3 linked regions of the Homo sapiens genome follow. The protein of the gene in region 3 interacts with the protein of the main gene of each other region in a pairwise test. Each region holds a gene or a part of one and is shown on either strand. Other genes may lie near its edges. The genes, in order: ZNF205, PIBF1 and TSGA10.

Evidence for each region.
Region 1: the proteins of TSGA10 (region 3) and ZNF205 interact in binary tests that used the Homo sapiens proteins (3 or more experiments, as listed by UniProt).
Region 2: the proteins of TSGA10 (region 3) and PIBF1 interact in a two-hybrid assay, tested with the Homo sapiens proteins (one large-scale study listed by BioGRID).

What each region holds. Positions count from the first base shown.
Region 1 is NC_000016.10:3,111,392-3,115,504, forward strand, and holds the start of ZNF205 (transcriptional repressor RHIT), read left to right. Parts: upstream 1-1,194; 5' UTR 1,195-1,291; exon of another isoform or gene 1,292-1,559; intron 1,560-1,957; exon of another isoform or gene 1,958-2,025; 5' UTR 2,026-2,039; coding exon 2,040-2,096; intron 2,097-3,403; exon of another isoform or gene 3,404-3,496; intron 3,497-3,576; exon of another isoform or gene 3,577-3,963; coding exon 3,964-4,113.
Region 2 is NC_000013.11:72,820,027-72,823,676, reverse strand, and holds part of PIBF1 (progesterone-induced-blocking factor 1), read right to left. Parts: intron 1,829-3,650; coding exon 1,695-1,828; intron 1-1,694.
Region 3 is NC_000002.12:99,001,329-99,004,978, forward strand, and holds part of TSGA10 (testis-specific gene 10 protein), read right to left. Parts: intron 1-3,650. UniProt on the Homo sapiens protein: Plays a role in spermatogenesis. When overexpressed, prevents nuclear localization of HIF1A.

The sequences.
Region 1 (4,113 bases), on a different chromosome or scaffold from region 3:
GATTGCTTGAGATCAGGAGTTCAAGACCATCCTGGGTAACAAAGCAAGACCCCCATCTCTACAAAAAAATTTAAAAAATTAGCCAGGCATGGTGGCATGCGCCTGTGGCCCCAGCTACTTGGGAGGTTGAGGTGAATTGCTTGAGTCCAGGAGGTTGAGGGTACAGTGAGCTATGATCGTGCCACTGCACTTCAGCCTGGGTAACAGAGCAAGACCCTGTCTCAAATAAGTAAATAAATAAACAAACAAACCCTTAAAAGCCCACACAACATAGCACGAGCTGGTACAGAGGCAGCTGGGCCCATCTTACTGTGTGAAGCTGTGCACCTCAGGGGATTCTGGTGAGCCAAAGACAGTGGCATGGGGACGTTTCCTAGGGAAACTTCCTGGAATCTGATTCCAGGACTGGGCCCCTGGCCCTTTTCCTGACACCCAGCCCCCATGCCTGCCCAAGAGAAATGGTTCCTTCCCCCAGAAAGTAAAGCACAGTCTCTGTCCTCTCTATTTGAGGCCTTACTTCTCAGGGTCTAAAGGGAAATGGTGCCTGAGAGGCAGAATCTGCAGCTGCCAGGCGTGTTTGAGAACTTAGAACCCCATTTATAGCTGGATCACACCCTCTATCCCCAAGCTGAAATGGGCCTGGAAGAATCGGATTAACCAACTTCTTCCCAAGGTGTGGGGCATCCGGATTGGGGGGAGTTCCCAGCCTGTTTCCCAAGTTCACTCTTAGGGAGAGAGTTCTGTGCCAGTCTTGGGGGGACCCAGAGGGCCCTTGACTAGGAGTCCCTAAATGAATTCAGGGTCCCTCAGGAGACAATAACCTTCAGAAACCCCGAGTGCTAAAATAAATGGTCCTGCCCTCTCCACCCTGCAAAATGCCCTTCTTTCTACCTGTGAGGACAACTGCAGTGCTCGCTTTGAAATTTCAAATAACACAATCTTTCCACAAAATGCATCTTCCATTTTTCTGTTTTGGTGGCTCTGCCTTGCTGGCATCATGAACGCGTCCTGGGTAAAGCCATCCTCATGAGCTGGCATTGCGGCTCTGGGAGTCACCTCCCGGCCAAGAGCAGGTGCAACCCAGGCTCGAGACTCCACACCCGGAACCCTCAAAACCGGGAACGCTGTAGGGCTGCGGCTGCATGGGGAATGGGATCTGGGAGGGACTTCCTGTCTTCCCTACTCCCAGTCTCCACCCAACTCCCCCGCCCGCCCCGTGCAGGCTGTGGAGACTCCCTTCCCGGGGGAGGGGGCCCCCACTGCCGCAGGTGCCCCCTCTGCCTCCACCCCGGTGAGAAGGGGGTGCTGGGGAGGGCATCTGGATCCCGAGACCGGCGCAGATGATCAGCTTGCAGGAGGGGATGGGGTCAAAGGTGGAAGGCTTCAAGCTGGCAGGAGAGAAGGGGGCCAGGACCGGGTTTGGGAAGGAGAAGGACATTGTCTGCCAGGACCGAGAGCAGGATGGGCATCCCAGGCCTGGGGCAGGTGGTTGCAGCTGCAGGGGGGCTGCTGAGAGCGGGCAGGTTGATTTCTGAATTCCTGGTGGGCATGGGAGTCAGGTAGGGACACACGGTGTATGTCCTGGGGTCGGGGGACAGCAGGTCCTGGATTACCCTGGCCTTGACGGGCGGGGCCCCACCAGCACCTGTTCTGCAGGATCTCTGCAGAACTTTCTGCTCCTGATGACAGGAAATAGCGATTCCAATTTAGCCTCGGCTTTCCCTGAGCCGGTTACACTGAGATGCGAGGCTCTTGCTTCAGCAATAAAGGGGACAATACAAAATAGCATTCTTTCAAAAATAGGACCCAGAAAACATCACAGAGAGTGGGACCATCGGATAGGATCTGGGAGACTTTCTTTCCGATTGGGACCAGGGAGCGCTGGTACTCGTGGGGATTTTCAGGGCTCTTTGGGGGTGTCCAGGAAGCGAGGGCTGGTTTCTGTCTGCTCTTCTAGGCTCCTGGCCAGAAGCTGGAGGGGGCTTGGCCAAAAAGAGGGAGAAACAACTCAGCTGTTCTTTCTAGCTCTGAAATAGAAAATGTCTGCAGACGGCGGAGGCATCCAGGACACCCAGGACAAGGAGACACCCCCGGAGGTACAGATGGGGCTGGCTGAGGGAGGTGTGCGGTAGAAGAGGCTGGTGCGGAGGAGATTTTCAAGGCACAGAGTCTGGACCCCTGGAAGAGTTAGACTCACTGGGGTGGGGAGATCAAAGAGAAGGTGGCATGCTGGGTAGTACCCTCTGTCTGGAATTTACAGCATAACAGTTTTGCTTTGCTGGTGAATTCTCTAGCCAGTGGCCACAGGAGATGGAAGAGGTCTGGGTGGAGGTCCTATCAGTGAGGTTTTCTTTCTGAGCAGCGCTCAGAGCACACAGGGAAACCTGTTCTCCTTCCCCGTGCTTCTCCACCTGGAACCACAGCTTCTCATCTCTGTGGGTCTGAGCTCCCGGTCCTTTCTCCTTCCTGTACCTGCTACCCGTGTGTGTGTGCGTGCGTGGTTGAGTGTGTGTGTGTAATTACTATTTGTGGGGGACCTGGGTCTCCGGGCTTGGAGTTGGAGGAGTATGAGTCAGCGACAGGCCAGGGGCCAGTCCCTGGCCTCTGGGAACCAGATGTGTCATCTGTAAAATGCAGACCACATGCCTGCCATTTCCACCTGTCTCGCAGGGTCACTGGGAGGCTCTAAGGATAATAGGCATGAGACGCCATCATCTATGGTTTTCATGCCATAGAAGCACAAAGAATTGTTAGCATGGTTCAGTTTCCCATCCACTTCCCGTGTGCCTTGAACACCTTGGGCATGTCAGTAGAGCCCCACATGTTGGCATTCTCTGCTGGCACTGGCTTCTGTCTGGTGCGCACGGCGGGGGGGATTAATGACCAGCGCCACCCTGTGTTTATCCAGGACTTTCCTGAGCTGGCAGCTCCTTCTCCATCATTATCTGCGTGAACCTCATGACCATTCTGTGCAGGGGCAGAGCAGCTGCGTCCTGAAGGCTGCCTGATTGGGGAGGGGTGTCGCTGGGTCTGGCACCCAGGCACTCTGATTCCTGGCCTGAGGTTCTTTCCCTTCAAGACCCAAACACAGACAGGGCGTGGAGGAAGGAGTGTGAGACCCCAGCAGAAGTCCGGCCAGTTCCTGTGCTGTGGATGAGGCCCCACCAGGGCCCTCCCTGACTTTCCCAAAGCTTTTGAGCTATGTGGTCACGGGGCATTGTCTCATCCCCAGCCATGGTGTGTTAGTCTCCCGTGGCTGCTGTAACAAGTTTCCACTCTCTGGGGGGCTGAAAACAACCAGAATTGGCTCTCTCACAGTCCTGGAGGCCTGCAGTCCAAAATCTAGGTGTCAGCAGGGTCACACTCCTTTTGAAAGCTCTAGACTAAGAGGACCCTCCCTTACCTCTTCCAACTCCTTGGGGGCTCCTGGTGTCCTTGGTGTGGGCATCCCTCCAGTCTCTGCTTCCTTCTCTGTGTCTCTGTGTCCTCTCCTATTCTTATAAGGACATAAGTCATTGTTAGATTTTAGGCTCACTCTAAATTCACGATGATTTAATCTCAAGATCTTTAACTTACCTGTATAAAGACCCTTTTCCCCAATAAGGTCCCATTCTGAGGTCCAGGGAGGACACGGATTCTTAGAGGACACTATTCAAGCCACTACACTTGGTTTCTTCATACACTAATAGACAGCAGTCTACACTGCTGAGGTCAGTGTGAGGCTGGAGCTGAGAAGGGGTAGCTGCCCTTGGGCACCACGCCCACCGGCACTGTGGAGGCGGCTTGGTGAATATTCCTCCTCTTGCCGCCCGTCCTTGCTGGGGTGAGCTGGATGAATGCAGCAAGGACAGTCCTTCAAGCTGCGTCTTGCATGTTGGTTTCCGACGCTGCCGGAGCGCACTGCCATGTGGCCCTGGGTGTCTCTCCCACTCATCTGGGTGCTGATGGGGCTGTCCTTTCTAGGTTCCAGATCGTGGACATCCTCATCAGGAAATGCCTTCTAAGCTGGGGGAGGCGGTACCTTCAGGGGACACTCAGGAGTCACTGCACATTAAGATGGAGCCCGAAGAGCCACACTCCGAGGGGGCATCGCAGGAGGATGGGGCTCAAGGT
Region 2 (3,650 bases), on a different chromosome or scaffold from region 3:
TTCCATTCTGCTACTGAAAAGCATTTGAATTTCTTTTAATAATGACACAATTAACATCCATACACCTGTTTCCTTTTGTACATTTGTGAGAATTTACCCGGGGCATAAAAGGGCTTTTTTTTCTTCCCCAGTTTATCTTATATTTTATGACCGATGTTTTTAAACTCATTCATTCTGCTGAGTGAACTAAAAAGGGTCATAGTTTGAGTCCTTTCTTGTTTTACTATTCCATTTCTACCATAAAGATGCTTATCATGCTTTTTGATCAAGGTTATATTTTTCTTTCCTAGGTTTTTATTATAGTAAATGAAAACATATGTAAAAATAGAGGTGATATAATGAACACCCATGCTCCCATCACCCAAATTCAGTAATTATCAACTCATGACTCATCTTGTTTCAATGATCATCCGTGGCCCCGATGGATTATTCTGATGACTGTGCTTTTTAGTTTTCTCTTTTTATATTGTATCTGTCATTGCTATAGACTGATAGTGGCAGAGGGGACATGAAAATACCAACTGGTATCATCTTAGCATCATAATCTATTTCATTTTTATTCTTTTTTATTTTATATTTTTAAGAGATGAAGTTTCACTCTGCCACCAGGCTGGAGTGCAGTGGCATGATCATAGTTCACTGCAGCCTCGAATTCCTGGGCTTAAGCAGTCCTCCCACCTCAATCTCCCAAGTAGCTGGGACTAAAGGCATGTGCCACTATGCCCTCTACTTCATTTTTAAATGCTTCTTTTGAACTCCAGCTTTATTCCAGAGCCCACTGAGCACAGCTCTCATGGATTTAAAGCTCCAATAATTATCATATTTTGGCATAATGCCATATACATAAGAAATACCATGTGTCAGTCATAATGGGAGTAGAAATGACAATCTTCTATCCACAAATCTTTGCAAATTCACATACGGTATTATGCAATTTGTAATTTAAATTACACAATTTAAATCATTCATTCATTTAACAAATATTCACTGACTACTACATTTTAAGAATTATTTCAAGTGGAGTGAACAATTAAGATAAGGTCATTCCATTTATATTACATATGCAGTACATATATATTTAAAGGCTTTCATATTTATTTGATCTTAGTTTATATAGTGCAGTTATCCGTATTAGCAACATCTCATAAATGATGAAACTTAGGCTCAGAATGAAAAGAGATGTACTGAGGGACATACAGCTAAGTAGCAGCTCATTAAATTACTGAACAAACAACAGAAAAGAATATTCCAGTTAAAAAAAGGTATTTGCTATAAGTAGCAAATATTAGGAAACATATTTTCAGAAAGTGTCATTTTTTTTTTGAAAGAGTGTGTGTCTTTTGTCAGGAAGAAACAGCTGAAAAAAACTTCAGGGAAAACTGTTAAGTATTTAAATTGATTCCACTACATAAAAATAATCATCAAATAACACTGAAAAAATATTTACACACGTGTGATTTTACTGGGTTTCTATCTCTGTTTACATTTTAAGACAGCAGTGACATCTAAATAAAACAAAAACAACCAATATAAAAATACAATATAAACCCAACAAACTGCCAAAACTGCATGCATTTGTGCAAAGAAGAATAAGGTAAAAGTAAAATTAACAACTGATTGTTGGTAAAAACTCAGGTGACTTTGATGCACCCTAAAAATAGAGAACTACTACTGCAGCCATTTTAACTACTTACCTCTTGACTTTATCATAGTTCTCTTGACGGTAGTCACCTTGCTGAATTAACTGTTTTGTGTCTGCTAATTCTAAGGCCAAACGTTGACATCTAATTTGAACTTCAGAGTAGTTTTTTCGATCTTCCTCATATGTCTATAAACCAAAGGAATAATAACACATTTCAGACTAAACACTTAACATAGTTGCCCAAATTCTGTATTGAAGTCTTCTGTTAAGCTGTGATTGTCCTTGTAATTAAACAGTAAAAAAAATTCCTCAATTTTTAAATTTAGTAATTTTTCCCTATTCAAAGGCAAGTAATCTTAAGTTCACAGAGTGGTCTGTAAACTCAGTTGTTTAAAACTTAAACTGTTTTTCAAATAAATAACACAACAACTATGTTTTAGTTACTAGGCTAAAACATAAAATGACTACAAATGTTAAATGACTTTTTAAAAACATTTACTGAGTTACTATCAGATGCTGAAGATACAGAAGTGAATAAAACACACTTCCTGTTCTTGAGGATTTTACAGTTTAGAGATGAAAAGTCATATGGATATCAGTATCTACAATGAAAAATAATTAATGAAGAGATTAAACATGCAGTTCCAATTGTGTTACTCAGAAAAAAAGGAATCGTGTGACCCTCGAAACACATCTTTACATTGTTCTTCCCTCTACTCTCCCCATGTCAGTAGCATGTTAAGAAAGGCATTGCTGATATGGGAAGAGCAATGGAAGTAAAAACCTTAAAGTTGGTCACAAGGTTCTTTACAATCTGGTGCTGCTTCCTACAAGCCCCATTTCTCACCATTCCTAACATTCACACTTCACCCTCCAACCCTAATGGAGATCTGAAATTGTCTGAACCCACTAATGCTGCTTCTAACCTGTTCCCACTGCCTGAATACCTGCATATAATCTAAATGCTTGTCTCCTTCAGAGCACTGATCTCACTGTATCATTACCATCACATTAGTTTTCTCTTTATCTCACCAGAGTGTAAACATCTTAAGGGTGGGGATTTTGTCTTGCTCAACGCTGGACCTCCACCACTTTAAACACTGCCAGGTATATAATAAGAATTAAATAAAAGCTAAAAAAGAAATGATTAAATATGGGAAGCTGGGAGGGGAAGCAGACGGGACTAAATTCCTACTTATTTTCCTTCTTTGAACTCATCAAATCTTGCAACCAATCATCAACTCCACCTTCAGAAGCTGGCATGTTAAATGCATCCTGTGTTAAGTCATTACTGCTTAAGTAGCTGGCCAGCTAAATGAGGTCATGTTCACTCCACACATACTGACTGGATCATTTCTGTGTGACTGGTCACGGATTAGGCACTACAGATACAAAGATGAGTAAGACGATTTTGTCCTTTTTAAACTACTAAATGTAACTTTGATTATTTTAGTCCCCAAATTTCTATCAAAGGGCTATTTGAGAGAAGTAATTATGGAAAAACTACATTCAGTGTGTTTTGCTTTGGTATGGTATTATGTTCTTGTTCTACGCTGAAGTTTTCCATGAGAATGGAATGTTACTATGGTACTTATTATGGGATTACAGCTGAGGATACGCTATCACCTCCCGAAAGATCATCACATATATCATTTCGGACCTAAGTCCTACAAGAATCTTTAGTTCTTCTGAAGAATGCTTTATCCTTCTAAACATCATTAATCATGTCACTGTTTTGGAAGAGAGTATAGTGTTATGGCTAGGAAGGCAAGCTCCAGAATTCAACTGTCTAAAACTGAATTCCTGCAGTAAGACTCTGTGCACGTTAGTTTACCTCTCTATTCTGGTGTCCTACCTCAGAGTTCTTGTGAAGCATATATCAAGTAATACATGTAAAGTGCTTATAAAAATGTCTAACGTAGTAAATGCTGATTAACTATAAATTAATATTGTTATAATGCTTCCTCTTTGCTTTGGCTTCCAAAGAGATCATAGCCAAATTAACAGC
Region 3 (3,650 bases):
CGAGGCAAACAGGATCTGGAGTGGACCTCCAGCAAACTCCAACAGACCTGCAGCTGAGGGTCCTGACTGTTAGAAGGAAAACTAACAAACAGAAAGGAATAGCATCAACATCAACAAAAAGGACACCCACACCAAAACCCCATCTGTAGGTCACCAACATCAAAGACCGAAGGTAGATTAAAACCACAAAGATGGGGAGAAACCAGAGCAGAAAAGCTGAAAATTCCAAAAATCAGAGTGTCTCTTCTCCTCCAAAGGAACACAGCTCCCCACCAGCAACAGAACAAAACTGGACAGAGAATGACTTTAACGAGTTGACAGAAGTAGACTTCAGAGGATCAGTAATAACAAACTTCTCCAAGCTAAAGGAGGACGTTTGAACCCATCGCAAAGAAGCTAAAAACCTTGGAAAAAGATTAGACGAATGGCTAACTAGAATAAACAGCATAGAGAAGACCTTAAATGACCTGACGGAGCTAAAAACCATGGCGCGAAAACTACATGACGCATGCACAAGCTTCAGTAGCCAATTCAATCAAGTGGAAGAAAAGGTATCAGTGATTGAAGATCAAATGAATGAAATGAAGCAAGAAGAGAAGTTTAGAGAAAAAAGAATAAAAAGAAACGAACAAAGCCTCCAAGAAATATGGGACTATGTGAAAAGACCATATCTACATCTGATTGGTGTACCTGAAAGTGACGGGGAGAATGGAACCAAGTTGGAAAACACTCTGCGGGATATTATCCAGGAGAACTTCCCCAATCTAGCAAGGCAGGCCGACATTCAAATTCAGGAAATACAGAGAACGCTACAAAGATACTCCTCGAGAAGAGCAACTCCAAGACACATAATTGTCAGATTCACCGAAGTTGAAATGAAGGGAAAATATTAAGGGCAGCCAGAAAGAAAGGTCCGGTTACCCACAAGGGGAAGCCCATCAGACTAACAGCAGATCTCTTGGCAGAAACTCCACAAGCCAGAAGACAGTGGGGGCCAATATTCAACATTCTTAAAGAAAAGAATTTTCAACCCAGAATTTCATATCCAGCCAAACTAAGCTTCGTAAGTGAAGGAGAAATAAAATACTTTACAGACAAACAGATGCTGAGAGATGTTGTCACCACCAGGCCTGCCCTAAAAGAGCTCCTGAAGGAAGCACTAAACATGGAAAGGAACAACTGGTACCAGCCACTGCAAAAACATGCCAAATTGTAAAGACCATCGAGGCTAAGAAGAAACTACATCAACTAACGAGCAAAATAACCAGCTAACAACATAATGACAGGATCAAATTCACACATAACAATATTAACCTTAAACGTAAATGGGCTAAATACTCCAATTAAAAGACACAGACTGGCAAATTGGATAAAGAGTCAAGACCCATCAGTGTGCTGTATTCAGGAGACCCACCTCACATGCAGAGACACACATAGGCTCAAAATAAAGGGATGGAGGAAGGTCTAACAAGCAAATGGAAAACAACAACAACAAAAAGCAGGGGTTACAATCCTAGTCTCTGATAAAACAAACTTTTTTTTTTTTTTTGAGAAAGAGTCTCACTCTGTCGCCCAGGCTGGAGTGCAGTGGTGCGATCTTGGCTCACTGCAACCTCCACCTCCCAGGTTCAAGCAATTCTCTGCCTCAGCCTTCTGAGTAGCTGAGATTATAGGCAAGTGCCACCATGCCCGGCTAATTTTTGTATTTTTAGTAGAGACAGGGTTTCACCATCTTGGCCAGGCTGGTCTTGAACTCCTGACCTCGTGATCCACCTGCCTCGGCCTCCCAAAGTGCTGGGATTATAGGCGTAAGCTACCGTGCCTGGCCTAAAACAGACTTTAAACCAACAAAGATCAAAAGAGACAAAGAAGGCCATTACATAATGGTAAAGGGATCAATTCAACAAGAAGAGCTAACTATCCTAAATATCTATGCACCCAATCAATACAGGAGCACCCAGATTCATAAAGCAAGTCCTTAGAGATGTACAAAGAGACTTAGACTCCCACAAAATAATAATGGGGGACTTTAACACCCCACTGTCAACATTAGACAGATCAACGAGAAAGAAACTTAACAAGGATATCCAGGACTTGAACTCAGCTCTGCACCAAGTGGACCTAATAGACATCTACAGAACTCTCCAACCCAAATAAAAAGAATATACATTCTTCTCAGCACCACATCACACTTATTCCAAAATTGACCACATAGTTGGAAGTAAAGCACTCCTTAGCAAATGTGAAAGAACATAAATTATAACAAACTGTCTCTCTGACCATAGTGCAATCAATCAAATTAGAACTCAGGATTAAGAAACTGACTCAGAACTGCACAACTACATGGAAAGTGAACAACCTGCTCCTGAATGACTGCTGGGTAAATAACGAGATGAAGGCAGAAAGATGTTCTTTGAAACTAATGAGAACAAAGACACAACATACCAGAATATCTGGGACACATTTAAAGCAGTGTGTAGAGGGAAATTTATAGCATTAAATGCCCACAAGAGAAAGCAGGAAAGATCTAAAATCGACACTTTAACATCACAATTAAAAGAACTATAGAAGCAAGAGCAAACACATTCAAAAGCTAGCAGAAGACAAATAACTAAGATCAGAGCAGAACTGAAGGAAATAGAGACATAAAAAACCCTTCAAAAAATCAATGAATCCAGGAGCTGGTTTTTTGAAAAGATCAACAAAATTGACACACCACTAGCAAGACTAATAAAGAAGAAAAGAGAGAAGAATCAAATAGATGCAATAAAAAATGATAAAGGGGATATCACCACTGATCCCACGGAAATGCAAACAACCATCAGAGAATACTTTAAACACCTCTATGCAAATAAACTAGAAAATCTAGAAGAAATGGATAAATTCCTGGACACATACACCCTCCCAAGACTAAACCAGGAAGAAGTTGAATCTCTGAATAGACCAATAACAGGCTCTGAAATTGAGGCAATAATTAATAGCTTACCAACCAAAAAAAGTCCAGGACTAGACAGATTCACAGCCGAATTCTACCAGAGGTACAAAGAGGAGCTGGTACCATTCCTTCTGAAACTATTCCAATCAATAGAAAAAGAGGGAATCCAGATGCAATAAAAAATGATAAAGGGGATGTCACCACCGATCTCACAGAAATACAAACTACCATCAGAGAATACTACAAACACCTCTACGCAAATAAACTAGAAAATCTAGAAGAAATGGATAAATTCCTCAACACATACACGCTCTCAAGACTAAACCAGGAAGAAGTTGAATCTCTGAATAGACCAATAACAGGCTCTGAAACTGTGGCAATAATAAATAGCTTACCAACCAAAAAAAGTCCAGAACCAGATGGATTCACAGCCGAATTCTACCAGAGGTACAAGAAGGAGCTGGTACCATTCCATCTGAAACTATTCCAATCAATAGAAAAAGAGGGAATCCTCCCTAACTCATTTTATGAGGCCAGCATCATCCTGATACCAAAGGCTGGCAGAGACACAACAAAAAAAGAGAATTTTAGACCAATATCCTTGATGAACACTGATGCAAAACTCCTCAATAAAATACTCACAAACCAAATCCAGCAGCACATCAAAAAGCTTATCCACCATCATCAAGTGGGCTTCATCCCTGGGATGCAAGGC